Regions from separate parts of the Homo sapiens genome. Here region 1 is linked to region 2. Evidence: fine-mapped expression QTL. Tissue or cell type: whole blood. Region 2 holds a variant in brackets; the other region holds the start of a gene. All regions are shown on one strand. Distances are between the middles of the regions.

Region 1 (8,093 bases), 28 kb before region 2:
TGGAGATTAAGTTTCAACATGAATTTTGGAGGGGCACATACATTCAATCCACAGCATCATCCTTCCTAACTGAATTAGTAGTGGGGCCAAGACATTTGTTTTGCAAGCCTTAAAAGTTTAAAAACATGGTGAGTAAAGACACTTTCCAAGAAAAATGCGTTTCCCTTAAGGACTTGGATTTTACTCCCTTCCAATGCTTGGTCTTCATAAACCTTATTTATGTGGGGTGTGTGACCCCTAAACATGCATGTAGTCATCTCTTTTTTTTTTTATTTTTTATTTTTTGAGACAGAGTCTCGCTCTGTTGCCCAGGCTGGAGTGAAGTGGTGCGATCTCGGGTTACCACAACCTCCGCCTCCTGGGTTCAAGTGATTCTCCTGCCTCAGCCTCCCCAGTAGCTGGGACTACAGGTGCGCACCACCATGCCTGGCTAATTTTTGTATTTTTAGTAGAGACGGGGTTTCACTATGTTGGCCAGGCTGGTCTCGAACTCCTGACCTCGTGATCCACCCACCTGGGCCTCCCAAAGTGTTGGGGTTACAGGCGTGAACCACTGCGCCCAGCCGCATGTAGTCATCTCGTATACACCTACTTCATCAGCAAAAGTGGTGATAATGGACTTGGTTGATCTTTTAGTATTCAGTAAAGTTGAGAATGGTCAAATGAAAGGGTGTAGAGGAAAAGCTTTATAAATTCAAATGTCTTATCTTATTCAAATACTTATCTAAGTATTTTATGCTGAAGTTTATAATAAAAATCAGGAATCAGGTAATATAATTCTAGTAATTTTACTTTTAAAAATTTACCTGCTAATGGTGATTGGGTCTGATTCATTTACTTTTATTTTTCACAGTGTTTTGATAAAGGTTCACATTAAAGGCCTTGGGGTGGTAATGTGATGAGAATGTCAAAGGAAGAGCTGGCTGGGGTGGTGTGAGAAAACCAGTGGTAAGAAAAGAAATGGAAGTAATAGGTAAGGACTAGATCAGGTAGGCCTTGTAGGCCATGGTAAGGACCTGAGATTTTGTGTTGCCTTTTAAAGGTTTTGGGACCATCTCAATTATAACTATGAAAGATCTGGCTGCTGTGAGGGGAACAGACTGTAGTGGAATAAGAGTGGAAGCATTGAGGCCAAGTAGAAAGCTATTGCAATAGGCAATGGTGGCCTGGACTACTATAGCAGCAGTAACAGTGATGCAAAGTATTTAATCCAGAATAAATGTTGAAGGTAGAGGGAACAGAAATGTATTGACAATTCGGCGAAGTGGGTGGATCACTTGAGGTCAGGAGTTCGAGATCAACCTGGCCAACATGGTGAAACCTCGTCTCTACTAAAAATAGAAAAATTAGATGGGCGTGGTGGCACATGCCTGTAGTCCTAGCCACTTGGGAGGCCAAGGCAGGAGAATGGCTTGAACCTGGGAGGTGGAGGTTGCAGTCAGCCCAGATCATGCCATTGCACTCCAGCCTGGATGACAGAGCGAGACTCCATCTCAAAAAAAAAAAAAAAAAAAAAAAATTATTGGCAATTGGCTGTCAATAAATTGGTGTGAGAAAAAGAGGTTTTTGGCCTGAGCCACCGAATGAATACCGTTCACACTGGTCTCCCTGCCTAGTCTATAGGAGGTGGACATTGCTTCATGGAGGCTATGTTTGAGAGGCAGGGAGATTAGTTAGGAGGCCACTGCAGTCTTCCTGGGAAGATGAAGGGGCCTGAACCTGGGCAGGGGCTATTTGTGTAGAGATATGTTTATGAGGTAAAAATCGCCAGTTAGAATAGGTTAGAGATATTTACTTAACATTGAAGATCGCTGAATCTTTTTTCCCATTAACTCCACTTATTGGTGTCTACTCAAGAGCAGGGTTACCTGAGGGCTGTTTCTGTGTAGCTCTAGAGCTAAACTAAAAATGTTTCTTAAATTTTTAAAGGATGCGAGAGAGAGAGGAATATGCAACAGAAACCATACGTGGCGCTCAAAACCAAAAATATTTACTATCTAATCCTTCCCTTATCAAACCGTTTGCCCACCTCTGCCCTAGATCAGTGGTGTTTGTTTTTTTTGAGACGGAGTTTTCACTGTTGTCACCCAGGCTGGAGTGCAATAGCGCGATCTCAGCTCACCGCAACCTCCGCCTCCCAGGTTCAAGCGATTCTCCTGCCTCAGCCTCCCGAGTAGCTGGGATTACAGGCATGCGCCACCACGCCCGGCTAATTTTGTATTTTTAGTAGAGACGAGGTTTCTCCATGTTGGTCAGGCTGGTCTCAAACTCCTGACCTCAGGTGATCCGCCCCCCTCGGCCTTCCAAAGTGCTGGGATTACAGTCGTGAGCTGCCGCGCCCGGCCTATATCAGTGGTTTTTAAAGTGTGGCTCCTAGAGCAGCAGTAGCACCATCAGCTGAGAACTTGTTAGAAGTGCAAATTCTCGGGCCTCTGTTGAATCAGAAACTTAGGGAGTGGGGCCCAACTATCTGTTTTAACAAGCCCTACAGGTGATTTCGGTGCACATTAAGGTCTGAGAACCACTGCTCTAGAGAAAGTTCTGCACCTCTGCAGGATACATGGTGAAGAATATTTATAATAGCATTGCACGGAAGAGCTCCAAACCGGAAACACTTGAAGGTTAGTCAGCAGTAGGGCAGATAAGTGAATTGCGGCAATTAGTACAATGGGAGTATTCTATAGTTTGCCTGAGGGTATGGACTGTGGAGGCAGATTGCCTGTGTTTGAATCCCAGCTCCAGTGAATAGTAGCAGTGTAGTCCTGGGTAAGTTACTTGACCTCTCCAAGCCTGTTTTCTCATCTATAAAATGGGCATAAAAATAGCAACTACTGGCCGGGTGCGGTGGCTCACGCCTGTAATCCCAACACTTTAGGAGGCCAAGGCGGGCGGATCACGAGGTCAGGTGTGTTCGAGACCAGCCTGGCCAACATAGTGAAACCTCGTCTCTACTAAAAATATAAAAATTAGTTGGGTGTGGTGGCATGCGCCTGTAGTCCCAGCTACTAGGGAGCCTGAGGCAGGAGAACCGCTTGAACCCGGGAGGCGGAGGTTGCAGTGAGCCAAGACCGTGCCATTGCACTCCAGCCTGGGCGACACAGAGAGACTCCATCTTAAAAAAAAAAAAAAAAAAAAAATATATATATATATATATATATATGTACATACATATAGCAACTAGCTCATAGGGTTACTGTGAGGCTCAGAAGGCTGTATAATTACAAGAATGCCTGGTATATAAGCCCAGTATATTAAAGGACAGCCGGCATGTAATGTATTTTGATGCTTTAAGGAAAAACATCAGGTTGATTTCATTAAAGTGATGGTCTGCCCAAATATTTTGCATATAACAGTATCTTTAAGCAGTCTAAAGGTAAAGATATTGTAGACTTTGGAGGCCCTAATGTTGGCATTGCCTCTGCCAATATTTAAGGTATTTGACGTATTGTCTTAACATGCCAAATACCTTAAAATTGCCCTTACAGGATTGCGAAGAAAACTGATGAGATGTACATGCTTGCGTCCACCATGTTTAGTTCGTAAGCATTCATTAATGTATTTTTTCCTTTCCGTTTCTTTGAACACTTCCTCAGTCCTTCATTCCAAAATTCCTGTGCTATCTCGGTATTCTCTGAAAACACTGCCAGACCTAAGATGCAAAGTGGCTTCCTTGACTACAAGATTTGGCTTGGCTTTGTCCATGAAACAAGGTCACCAGTGTCTCACCCTGGGGGCAAGTCTGGGCTTAGAGCTAGAACAGGACTGTAATCCTTGTATTTCAGGCCTTCTTTTAGCTTTAGTATGTAAAATGCTTTAGTATCTACTGATATTTAGCCATGCCTAAATTCGTAACAAGGACACAAAGAAATAGTCTTTTCCCCCTCTGTAAAGCCCACGTCATGTTCTTCCTTTACTGCAGGGCCTCTTAATGGGGCTTAAAACCTAGGATGGGTTAAGTAAACAATGTAGGTGAGTTTAGTGTGCAAACAGCTGAAATCACCGGCTGCATTTTAAGCTCGTCTACAGCAGCAACCTGCAGACACCTATTCAGAGAGATTACTAAATTCCCTCCTTCCCATTAATAAAAAGGACCAGAATATCAGTCTACAAAAGACACTGCGTTGCTGCGAACCAGCTCTCGCTTGCGCGATCAGGAAGAAGGGCGGCAAGGCTGGAGCCTCGGGACCGGAGAAAGGCAGCCTGCTTGTGACGTCAAATCAGCGGACTCTTATCTTGGCTTTAGGCCGGTTCCGGTTCCCCGGCTTTCCGGGCGCGAGCGTGTGCGAGCGCGGCAGCGTACTGCGCGTGCTCCGCAGAGGGACACGGGAAGGTTGGGTCCGGCTCTGGAGGAGATGCGTGATTGGCTGACGCTGTGCTCGGGGGTTCCCTGGCCCTTTCGGCAGGGGTAAAACAATAAGAGGGGGCGGTGGCAAAGGGGGCGGGACGTCCGTGGTCCTTGTCGCACGTCGCAGCGCCTGGCGCCCGGGAAGAGGTGGTTGTGAGGCAGACGAACTCGCGGCTCTCCGGCTTCCGAGGCTTCCGAGTTGTCGGAGGAAGGGGGCGGCGAGCAATAAGAACCCGCCGCACCCGGTCCTCAGCGACTCTTCTGACCTCCGCGCGACGTACCCGCCGCCGCCGTTGGCTGGAGGTGTGTACGGGCGCCGGGAGGGGAGGTCGGTGTGGTGGTCGGAAAGGGACATTCCATTCGCGCTCCGCGGCGCGAGGCAATCGTCCGGTGTGTGAGCCCGGGAGCCGGAGGTGTAGCGGCAGAGACATTGTTCTTGCCGGCTCCCTACGGTGCCGTGTGTGCGTGAGAGAAGACCAGTCTTTCCTCTAGGTGAGGGGTGGGAGGCCGCCTGGGAAGGGAGGTGACCCGCGAGCGTCTTGCGGGCAGAGGGCTCCGAGTGCACAGGTGGGGTTGAGGTTTATTGGGGATGAGGTGGCGAAGTGGGGGGGGAGGCACGCAGCAGCTCCCGAAGGCGCGCTGATGGAAGCTTAATACAGGAAGTGTGGGAGCAGGCTTTCTGGAGGGGATGTTTTAGGGTGGGTAGCCCACCGTTCCTGTTTCCGAATCGTTTTCGGCTCTTGTACCTTGTTCCTTCGGAGCGGAGAGGCCGTCGCCACCCCGCCCGTGGGGGGAGGGGAAAAGAGGTTGTGTCGACGGAGGCAGAAGCGACGCAGATGCGAAAGTGGCGGCCTCCGGGCACCATTTCTGTGCACGGAAACAGAATCCGGGTTTGAAGGCAGCCGCCGCTTCGCTTACCCAGTACCTAGTGTTCCGTCGTGTTTGACCAACCCCCCTCTCCCTGCCACCGCGGGTTTAATCCGAACGTGTTCGGATACTGGAACTGTAACGTGCGCCTTCTTCGTCCCCCTCTTATGCAGACGATCCCTTATTGACTCGGGAATGGCTTTTGGGGGATGGGTTCCCGCTTTTGTTGGGATGGGGGGACAGAAAGGAACAGAAGCTTCCCTAGATTGTGTTGATTTTGTTAGTGGAATCTGATAGAATTTTTCCTGCGTCTCTAAAAGCAGATTTCTTAAGATGGCCCTTTGCCGCTTTGGGGCGAATATAGATTTTCGTCTATAATTTCCTGCATAGATCAGCTTTTTTCCCCAAGACATACTTAATGTTCTAACGGATTTGGGGGGTGGGAGGAGAGTGCCTTTTCCTTCATAACAACAACAAAAAAAAGGCACTTGCACTTTTAGCTGGAATAGTAAAGTCCTGTTCTCCCTGTATGATTGTTGTGGGATATTAACTTGGATTAAGATACTGTGGTTTTAGGTTCAAGGCTCTGTACCTTGTTCTGGTCTTTCAAACGTTAGTGTTGCAGGTACCTGGATCTAGGAAACATTAACTGTCGTTAAGAGAGCCCCGGTGTACTAGAGTGGGAGATGATGGCAATTTTTCTCTAGCTCCATATTTGGCAGTTAATATAGCCTTAGGCATGTGAACCAAGTTTCTAAGTAAACTTTTGGCCCTGTTAGCATCCAGTGGTCTTTTTGATAATCCAAGATTCCTGGTCTTAGGAGATAAACGGTACGATGAGTTTGAACCTCAGGATTGAATTATCCTTTCTTTGGCAGTAACATTTTTCTTAAATGTTTAAGATTACTCTTATGGGCCTTTATGTTATGATTTAATCTTTACAAACTAATTCTGAAAAGCAGTCAAGGAATTGTAGGAATAATAAGGACCTAGAATGAATTTCTTACTAAGAGCTGTCATAGTTCAGATTGATATTCAGGGTCGAAATATTAGTAATAGTGAAAAAACATCAAGAGTGAACCAGAATGCTTGTGGGATGGATGGGGATAAAAATTAGAAGGTAAAGAAGAAAACACATTATTTGACCATTTCGTAGAGTAACTAACTTAACTGTTCAGTTAGCAGCTGAGCAGTTGATTTGTCAGCAGGCAACTCCTGGTTTGAAGAAAGTGTTGGCACTGTGTCTTTAGATTCTGAAAACTTCCCTCCTTATCCTGCAAAATTATCGCTGTTTATTACGCATAATTAGGATTGAACATTTTCCCCCTAGATTGCTTTAAAAAGACTTTCCACATATTTTGAGTGAATATGGAGACAGTGAATGACTCCTTTTCAATGTTGATTTTGAAAGGCACAAACTAAAGTGTTGCGTCTGAACTTAAATTCAGTAGAATTTAATGGACAAACATGACCTAGTTACTCTCCACTGGTAGACACTTGTTTTATATCCGATAGAATAAATTGGTCCACCCACCTTCAGGAAGGTCCTGGCCTACCTTCAGAAGCAATAGAATTAGTTTCTTGACTGTCGTGTTTCTGCTTACTTTTATCTGCTAATTTCCAAGTATTTTACCCTATCTTGAAACCATAGGTATATTGAAAATTATTCTTGGATTTTCTGTTGCTGTCCTGCTGTATTCCTTTGCTTTTCACTCTTCTCAACAGTTTCACATAAGCTAACAATTGCTTGTTTAAAATTAATTTTTTGTATTGTTGGAAGAGCTGGCTGCTCTTCCAAAGCGGTTGTTCCTAACCAAAGTGTAATGAAAACATCAGTTGAGTCAGGAGTCAGGAGACCTGATTTCAAATCCTCTTTCTTTTTACTGTAACTGAGGAACCCCAAACACCTTTCCTTAGGCTCTCTAAACATCCTTTTCTGTAAATGAAGATAATGCCCTATCTATTTTAAAGACAAAAGAAAATAGTAGGTTACTTGTTAAACTTTAAAACATAGTATAAATACATGCTTTATTTTTGTGGACAGCAAGCATTTCCATTTCTTACTGCTTGGTCACTTTTAATAGCTTCTGAATTTTAAAACTAGCCTCCCTCAACTTCTGAGAAGGACAGAAAACAAAAACACCTTTTGGAGCCTGAATAAGAGATTTAATCCATAACTTACTTTTATTATTTATTTGTACCACTATGATTCTTAGATCTTCTTTGTGAAGCTTTCATTCAATGGTGTACCACAAAAGATTGAAGGTCATTTCTTTAAAAAGGTATAGTGTTCCTTAGATTGTTTAAGTTACTTCAAACAAAAACCATCTGGAATTTCAGAAAGTTCCAGTATTAATATGCATTTAGCTGTTGGAAATGGATATAGTCCATGGTTCAATTAAAATAAATAAACCTGACTAGTTTGAGCCCAGCTATGAGTGAGGGACTCCAGAGGGGAAAGGGGTAAGTATCCTATAGTGGAGATAAGCTGTGTCTTAGCACCCACATAACCTTTGGTAACAGTATCTGGTAAAGAGAACTGCCTCCTATTACTAGAGGTCTTATTCTTTTTATAATAACTAATACCAAGTACTTACAACTCAGCTCACTGCAACCTCCGCCCCCGGGTTCAAGCGATTCTCCTGCTTCAGCCTCCTGAGTAGCTGGGATTACAGGCGCCCGCCACTGCACACGGCTAACTTTTTTGTGTTTTTAGTAGAGATGGGTTTTGCCATGTTGGTCAGGCTGGTCTCGAACTCCTGACCTCAGGTGATCCACCCATCTCGGCCTCCCGAAGTGCTAGAATTACAGGCGTGAGCCACTGCACCCGGCCTCTTTTTCCTTTTGTAGTTTCTGGTACATACATAGTAGCCATAAAATA
Region 2 (8,093 bases):
CTCCCAAAGTGCTGGGATTACATGGAGATGACCATCTTTAAAGATGGGACTGAAATTACTAGCTTTCTGAGTTGAGGACATGTTCTCCATATCCTGTTGGGTGTTTTCAGCATCCTTTGTAGGCTCATATATTTGTCTCTCCTTGGACCATAAATATTTGGGTAGTAGAAGGTCTGAAGAGGTTGGGAATACTGAAAATGCTGTTGTCTTGAGGAAAAGGTAATAGCAGACGCCGATGTAATTTTGTTTTAAAAATAATTATATGTTTAATTCAGCAGTTGGCAGAAACTTTTGGGAGGCATCTTAAACTGTCCTATTACTCCCAGACCCCTAGTTAAGGAAAATCGTTGGGACCAATACTTCAAATGCATATTTTTCTCATAAGGAAGAACAGTAGGGAGCTAAAGGACTTTAACTATTTGAGATGCTACATACAAGTTCCTATAAGTTTCTGTCATTTTTTTAACATGCATTTTAACCTTACAGGTAGCAATTTCAGGTGTTAGAGCAAGCTAATTTTTATACTTTGAACTATAAAAATACTGATTTTAAGGTTATGGGCAGAGATTTAGGCAATACTACTGAGCACTGTTACATTTGAAGGATAGCAAATTAGATTTTCAGAAATTATGTGTTATGTATTCTTGTCTAAGATGAAGATGGCTTTTAATTTTGTTTATGTATTTACATGGAGTGGTTCATCTTGCATTTTTGTGATTTTTTTTTTTGGTAGCAATACCTTTTATGCTATTTCAGTGTTGATATAACTTTAATGAAAAAATGTGACTGTAAAAAGCAACTTATTGTGAGTTACACAGCATTAAGTGGGAAAACAAAAGCTACCTACAGTCCTAGATTGGTACAGAATATCTTGATAAAAATTTATTTTTCTCATACATAGGACACTATGTTAAAAACATTCTAAACTTAAAACTACTGTTATGTCTGCTAGTGACTTGTCGTTAGGTGCTTTGGTTGGTTTTTCTCCAGTGGAGTGTTTTTTATAATGTTTTTTTTTCTTTATATTTTAGCCAAGAGTCGAAGCTAAACCAGAAGTTCAATCTCAGCCACCTCGTGTGCGTGAACAACGACCTAGAGAACGACCTGGTTTTCCTCCTAGAGGACCAAGACCAGGTGAGTCAGCTCCTTTATAGCCTTTAGCATTTAACATTTGTAAGGCTGTAAAAGACTGAACTTAAACAAAAAACTATGATGCGTTCTATACACAGACCCATATAGTCTCAAATTGCTTAAAGATGTGATGTGAGCAACCTGCTAAATAGTGTCTGGGGCCAAATAACCAATTTTTAGGGAGGATTGGTTGACATGCCATGGTGACATATTTTGAAGGTGTAAAAGACTTAAGTCTTATTTGGTTATTGTCACGGTTTTTTGTTTTTTTTTTTTGTTTGTTTGTTTTTTTTTTGAGACGGAGTCTTGCTCTGTCGCCAGGCTGGAGTACAATGGCGTGATCTCAGCTCACTGCAACCTCTGTCTCCCGGGTTCAAATGATTCCCTTGCCTCAGCCTCCCAAGTAGCTGGGATTACAGGCACACGCCACCAGGCCCAGCTAATTTTCTGTATTTTAGTAGAGACAGGGTTTCACCATGTTGGCCAAGATGGTCTCGATCTGCTGACCTCATGATCTGCCCTACTCGTCCTCCCAAAGTGCTGGGATTACAGGCATGAGCCACTGTGCCCGGCCTAGTCACTGGTTTTAAGAGTTCAAAACCAAGCTGCCAATAACCTACTCTCTTAGCAGTCTTATCTCTTTACAGATAAACAATAAGCCCATTTTGATTCTTAGGTATTAAGTAAGTTGCCATGATTTTTGACTTGTTTACCTTGTTAGCTACACATGTAATACTTTTATTTGAACTCTGTAAGAATGTTTAGATTGCTTTGGGGAGGAGATGGGAGAGATGGAGATAGTATATATCACATTTACAATGTGAATTTTTAAAGTGATATGTTACCAAACTAGAAGTCCTAAATTTGTCAGTGATTAAACTTGGGATCTTGAGTGAAACCCTTAAATTCTGAGCTTCTTTTATGTCAAATATTACACAAATTATTCTTGTATTGCCTATTTTCCTCACTGTGTTCCTTGTGTTATTGGGAGAATCAAATAAGATTTTATGTATATCTATATACATACACACTTAATATGTATAGACTGCATAAATGTGATGATTGCTGTTAAAATTTACTGATTGCTGTAATGTCATAAAGCCAAAGAATTTTGAATTTCAAAAAACTAAGCAAATATTTAGTAAGCTATACCTCACTATCTGAAATCTGCTTGGTTCCTGGGTGATGGCAACAGTTTGGTTAAGGAGGAATACCTGTAGTACTAATATTTGATTTTTGTATAATCCAGTAGATCTAGAAGAAGCTATTTTAGCAACCTAGTCATTGTCCTCACTTTACATTTTAGTGTCATGCTGTTTTCTAACCTACTAGTAATAAGTACTTTTGCCTCTTTTTCAAGAAGCTCACCTAGTCTTATTAAACTAAAACAGGAATATCAATATTAAGTGATTTTTACATTCACTCCTTTGAAGTAGTTTTTATGATATTGTAAACTTTAGTATCTGCTCTATTTCTATTCTCAGGCAGAGGAGATATGGAACAGAATGACTCTGACAACCGTAGAATAATTCGCTATCCAGATAGTCATCAACTTTTTGTTGGTAACTTGCCACATGATATTGATGAAAATGAGCTAAAGGAATTCTTCATGAGTAAGTGATTTATTTTGCTGTTGGAGTTTTTAAATTATTTTAAATTAAGCAAGAGGCATATGGAGCTTTTTTAATAACTATTTTTTTTAAATGTTTCTCTCTTTATACTGTGTCCAGCTACCAGACCCACCTTAATTGTGCAGAAGGGAGTAGATGACTTATCTCACATGTTTCTCAGTGACTGCTTAGTGTTGATTTGGCCTGGCTCAGTAGTGTTTAGAAGAAACAGCTGGATAAATCAGTCATAAATTCAGAGATAAAGGATTCATTTGGCAAATGGGTCAATATATTAGGAGAAAATACATTGTCTTTCCAAAATTATGCAGTTAACTTTACTTATGAAAGGACTACCAAAGATGCAGAAAGGTAACACAGCAGGCGGGCAGGCTACTTGGTATCTTAGGGGATTGCCTGCTTGAGTAAACGTACCTTGGCTATCACTGTGTGTAGAAGCTTGCGAGTTTTATTTTAAAATGGATCGGGGAGATAACGATATTCATCCTGAACAATTAGAGCCATCAAGGTATTCTGTTAAAAATATTTAACCCTTGATGTAATGTATATTTTCACAGGTTTTGGAAACGTTGTGGAACTTCGCATCAATACCAAGGGTGTTGGGGGAAAGCTTCCAAATTTTGGTTTTGTGGTTTTTGATGACTCTGAACCAGTTCAGAGAATCTTAATTGCAAAAGTAAGTGATTTAAAGGGCATAATTCAAGACTTTATTATTTCTGTTGTATATATTAATTTGGGGTATTTAAAAACCATAGAAAATCTTTTAATAATAAAGCTAAAAATAGTTATTAAATGGTATTTATGCAAAGAATAAAGATTTGTTAGTTTGCAGATCATTTTAAATTTTGTTACTTGCTTTGCTGAAGAAGGTGGGAAAGATTGCAAGATTGCATGTTAAGAATTTTGGCTGGGTATAGTGGCTCACACTTGTAATCCCAGCACTTTGGGAAGTTAAGGCAGAAGGATTGCTTGAGCCCAGGAGAGTTCAAGACCAGCCTGGGCAACAGTGAGACATTGTCTCTACAAAAAAAGAAAAATAGCCGGCCATGGTGGTAGACACCTATAATCCCAGCTACTCAGGAGGCTGAGGTGGGAGTATCACTTGAGCCCAGGATGTCAAGGCTGCAGTGAGCCATGCTTGTGCCACTGGCTGTCACCAGCCTGGGTGACAGCTGAGACCCTATCTCTGGGGGGTGGGGGGCTGATAAAAGTGTTTTATTCCTTATGCTTATCTGACTGACCTGTTCAGAGTAATCATTTCTATTGCTGTCTAACCTGCCCATGTAAATATTTTTCTTCTCTTTTATAAAGCCGATTATGTTTCGAGGGGAAGTACGTTTAAATGTGGAAGAGAAAAAAACAAGAGCTGCAAGAGAGCGAGAAACCAGAGGTGGTGGTGATGATCGCAGGGATATTAGGCGCAATGATCGAGGTCCCGGTGGTCCACGTGGAATTGTGGGTGGTGGAATGATGCGTGATCGTGATGGAAGAGGACCTCCTCCAAGGGGTGGCATGGCACAGAAACTTGGCTCTGGAAGAGGAACCGGGCAAATGGAGGGCCGCTTCACAGGACAGCGTCGCTGAAGCTCCACTGTTGGCAAAGTCTTGGCAGTGGTACATTATTCATCGTGTTTGCATTCTTGTTAATTTTTTTTTTGGCTTTGGAATGTGACACAGCCTTTTTGATCATTTCTTTGATGTGAAAAGCATCTTTGGTTATCAGTTAAATTGAGGTGGACATTATTTCCCCAATTTCACAACAGGATTCACATTGTTAATTTATAAATCTAGACTTGGAGAATTAAGGACTGAGAAATGACCATATCTTAAACTATCTA[C/T]GACAAAGTGAACTTAAAAGGACATGCCCACTGAATTCAGGTCCTTTGAGTAAAAAAAAAATCTTCTGCTGCACATTTTGTTTAAGTGTTACTGTTTCTGCCTGTTAATGCTGGGAACACAAATAGTGCAATTTGTGCAATTGGAGAATCTTGCCTTTTTTCTTGGCTCCCCCCAAAAATACAAACCAACAGAAACTTGTTATGCACTCATCAAAATGTACTAATGGGTACTCTGAACTCATTAACATTGACATCTGCAACAGGAGGCAACAGGGAAAAAATCTCATCTTCTTTTCCAGTAGAAAATAGTTTGTGAAATGATGAGGGCATTTTATCTGCTTGCTGTGACCAGCGTGTGTACACATAAACCTTAACAAGACTACAAGTATATTCCAGAAGGAAATCATTTTAGTTATGAACTAAATAATAAAAATTAGAACTTCAAATGCGATGGTCTTGACTATTAGACCAGATTTAGTAGCTCCATATCTAAGATTTTTCTACCTGCCCCTCTTCAGTACAGGGATGGCTGGCTGCTCAACACACTCCTCCTCCCCTTTTTTCCTTTCTTTAAGCTGTGTACAGTGAAAATTGTCTTTACTGTATTTTTGTTCTCTGGTAATGTAATAAGCATGATGGTGCCTTCTATTAATACATCATTCCAGTCTTGCTGGTAATTTTGTACAGTATAGTGTATGAATTGCTGTGCTGCAAAGCCAAACAGCTGCAAAATGTTGAAAAATCATCGAAATGTATAAAAATTGCAGTATCTTTAAAATCAGTAAAATGGACTAGCATATTATTTATCTTGTTCTTCAGTTAACAACTTTGTGTTCTCTGTGGGAGGGAGGGAGTCCTGTGTGTTTGTGGGGAGAGGGAAGGAGGAAGTCAGTTATTTGAGTAAGCCTCTAGTTGACTTTTCTCTTAGCCTGAATGTGGACGTTGAAACATATCACTTCAGGGCTTGGAAAAGTCAGTCAACTTGACGTACATTTTTAGTGACATTTTAAAAGCAGTCAGATTCTATAAATGGCAAGTAAGCCTGAAGTGAGGATACTGCAATTTTCGGAGAAAAGAACAGCAGCTCTTTAAGTGTTTGCATTTTCTATTTGGGGGGCAGGGAACTGTCATTCATTTTGCACAATTCTTGAACTGATGTCAGCACCCGAGTGGCTCCTGAATTTAAGTCTGGGACGACATCTTTTATTTTTACATGAATCTTTAAACAATTCTGTGAGCAAAGTTTGTAGCTGCTGGATTATTGTCTGTCTTTATAGCAAGTTCCAGTAAACCACAAGTATGGCAAAGCTTATCCAATTTTATGCTTGGAGCAGTCAGTACATACCAGTTTCTGATGTTTCAGGCAGGAGTGGGGTAAATAAGTGTGACCACTTAAAGCTGCTCGTTAGCATGGAAGACTTCTCCATTCTATCTTTGTAAAACAGACAAGATATGCACTTGACATAGTAGCAAATTGGTTCTGAATTATGCAACTGTTTGCTATTTAGTAAACTAGCAAATGATGCATGTATTTTGTTTTTCATGTACTGGGCAATATGAGTAAAATCTGTCCCTTTTTCCCCCTTTGAATGAGGTCTTCCATGTTTGAGGGAAAGTCTTGCACTATTGCATATATTTTGGGGACACAGATTTTCATAGTTTCCATTTTTGGGGGGCTTAAGGATTTTTTTTTTTTCTGTTTGAAACAGTTTTATACTTTCTGATATAGTACTTGAAATTCTTACCAGAAAATTACTTTGGAGTTTTGAAGCCTTTATTAATACTACTTTTAAAGAAGCAGTTGTTTTATTGTCAATGTTTTTTTTCCCCCAAGCATATTTTCTTGTATTTCTGTTTCCATATATATATATATATATATAATTTCCAATTCAGGATATTGCCCTGCCATCCATGAAAACTGTTCTGGCACCAAAAGTAATGACAAATGTTAAGTGTAATAATAGAAAAGTAGAGCAAAGAGCCATTCAGCTTCAGTCTTTACATACCATGAATAAAACATTAAAACATCATATGGAGAAGTTTACATGGTGATTGTTCACCTGCAGTACTGTGGAGTTTTAACATTTTGTCCTCTTTTCAGTGAAACAGAGTAAAAATATTCATCTACCATTACTGTTATTTGCTGATTTTGTTTTATTTTTTGATGGTAATATTCTATCCTTATGACACTATTGCAACCAAATTGGCTTTACCATCTTGGCTTTAGTAGGTATAGAAGACAATGGATTACCATCTTTATTGCTGTAATGTGTTAAGCATTATATGCTAGTAGAATCTAGTTTAATTGTTTCAGGTGGAAAGTATTCTTTGAGTTTCCATATTGAATGTGTTTGGACTAAACAAACAATAAACTACTGATGTCTGCAGCATTTATCTATGTCCCTAATTTAATCTATAGTTTTTATTGTTCCCAAATGTTTTCTCCCAGTTGCATTTCATACAAACTAAGTGGGAATAATAAGCAGTTGGGTTTTAAAACAATTTATTTGTGAAATTTGATACGTATAAAAAAAGTAAAACATTTAAGTAACACTTGACCATTGTAAGAGATCTATTCCGTCCAGTTAGACTGCTGGTATACAGGTTGAATGTTAGAATAATAAGTAGTAAGAATGATGAGAATGATCTAAAGCAGATTACAACCTTGGATTTTCTAAAGTATTTTCTGCCTTGCATCTCACAAGAAAGGAGAAGGGAAGGGATGAGAAGATTGAGGTTACCTGAAGTTAATGGACATGACTCAAGTTCAGAAATTGGAACTAATTTATCAAGCTCTCCAAAAATATTGATGTAACCATTAGCCATATTTAGTCATGCTTTCAATGAAAAATGAGGTCCTAAGGCATGTGTAATTTCAGAACTTGAACCTTTTCCTTCCTAAAAGGGGATGATATAGTTGAATTTTACCTGCTATTAATAACACTCTAAGATTTCTAAATCAGTCTTCACAAACTTGTACTGGGGAGAAACCAGAATAACCATTGCTTCATCTTAGGGGGGAAGGAAGACTTAAACCTTTTGTAAACTGACTTCTAATTATAATGTAATTTATCCAACTCTGGCAATGGAAAAACATTTTTTAAAGGGGATAAAATGTATATCTCACACTGTTGAAAATAGGTTCAAATTTAAAAGAGCAAATTATTACTTGGTCCCGGGAATTTATATGAACAACGTATTTGAAAACCTTAGCCACTCAAGAGGTTGAGTTGCTCATCATAACTTATATTTTAGCTACAGATCAATAGAGACCCTTGATTTTTTTTAATTTTGTGTTTATAAGACTTCCTAGTTAGAAGACTGTTTTGATCAGTTTGATGCCAGTGCTCTTTATTTATTTACAATTACTGGATAAACAAGTCACGAAAGAAATTTGTGATTTAAATATGTTCACATAGAAAATAATTTGCAACATTATCAGTTCCTAAATAATGAAGTTTCTGGCAGTTTTTGATAAGGAATAAAATCTTTTAAT

What was found. PIP is the estimated chance that this variant, and not a neighbour inherited with it, causes the effect.
Region 1: it holds the start of G3BP2, and the variant in region 2 is fine-mapped to the expression of G3BP2 in whole blood (INTERVAL, PIP above 0.99).

Annotation. Positions count from the first base shown.
Region 1 is chr4:75,669,763-75,677,855 of GRCh38, reverse strand. G3BP2 (G3BP stress granule assembly factor 2) reads left to right here and starts at 4,445. Exons shown (of 12, transcript NM_203505.3): 1 at 4,445-4,648. RefSeq lists enhancers at 1,655-2,631, 2,632-3,609, 4,346-4,635, 4,916-5,155, 4,588-5,565.
Region 2 is chr4:75,641,680-75,649,772 of GRCh38, reverse strand. It overlaps G3BP2 (G3BP stress granule assembly factor 2), which reads left to right. Exons shown (of 12, transcript NM_203505.3): 9 at 1,032-1,134; 10 at 2,616-2,744; 11 at 3,317-3,435; 12 at 4,071-6,987. The coding sequence ends at 4,343. Among named protein-coding and RNA genes, the nearest start is that of CDKL2, 15 kb to the right of the region's middle. The variant C/T (reference allele first, on the strand shown) is at 4,598.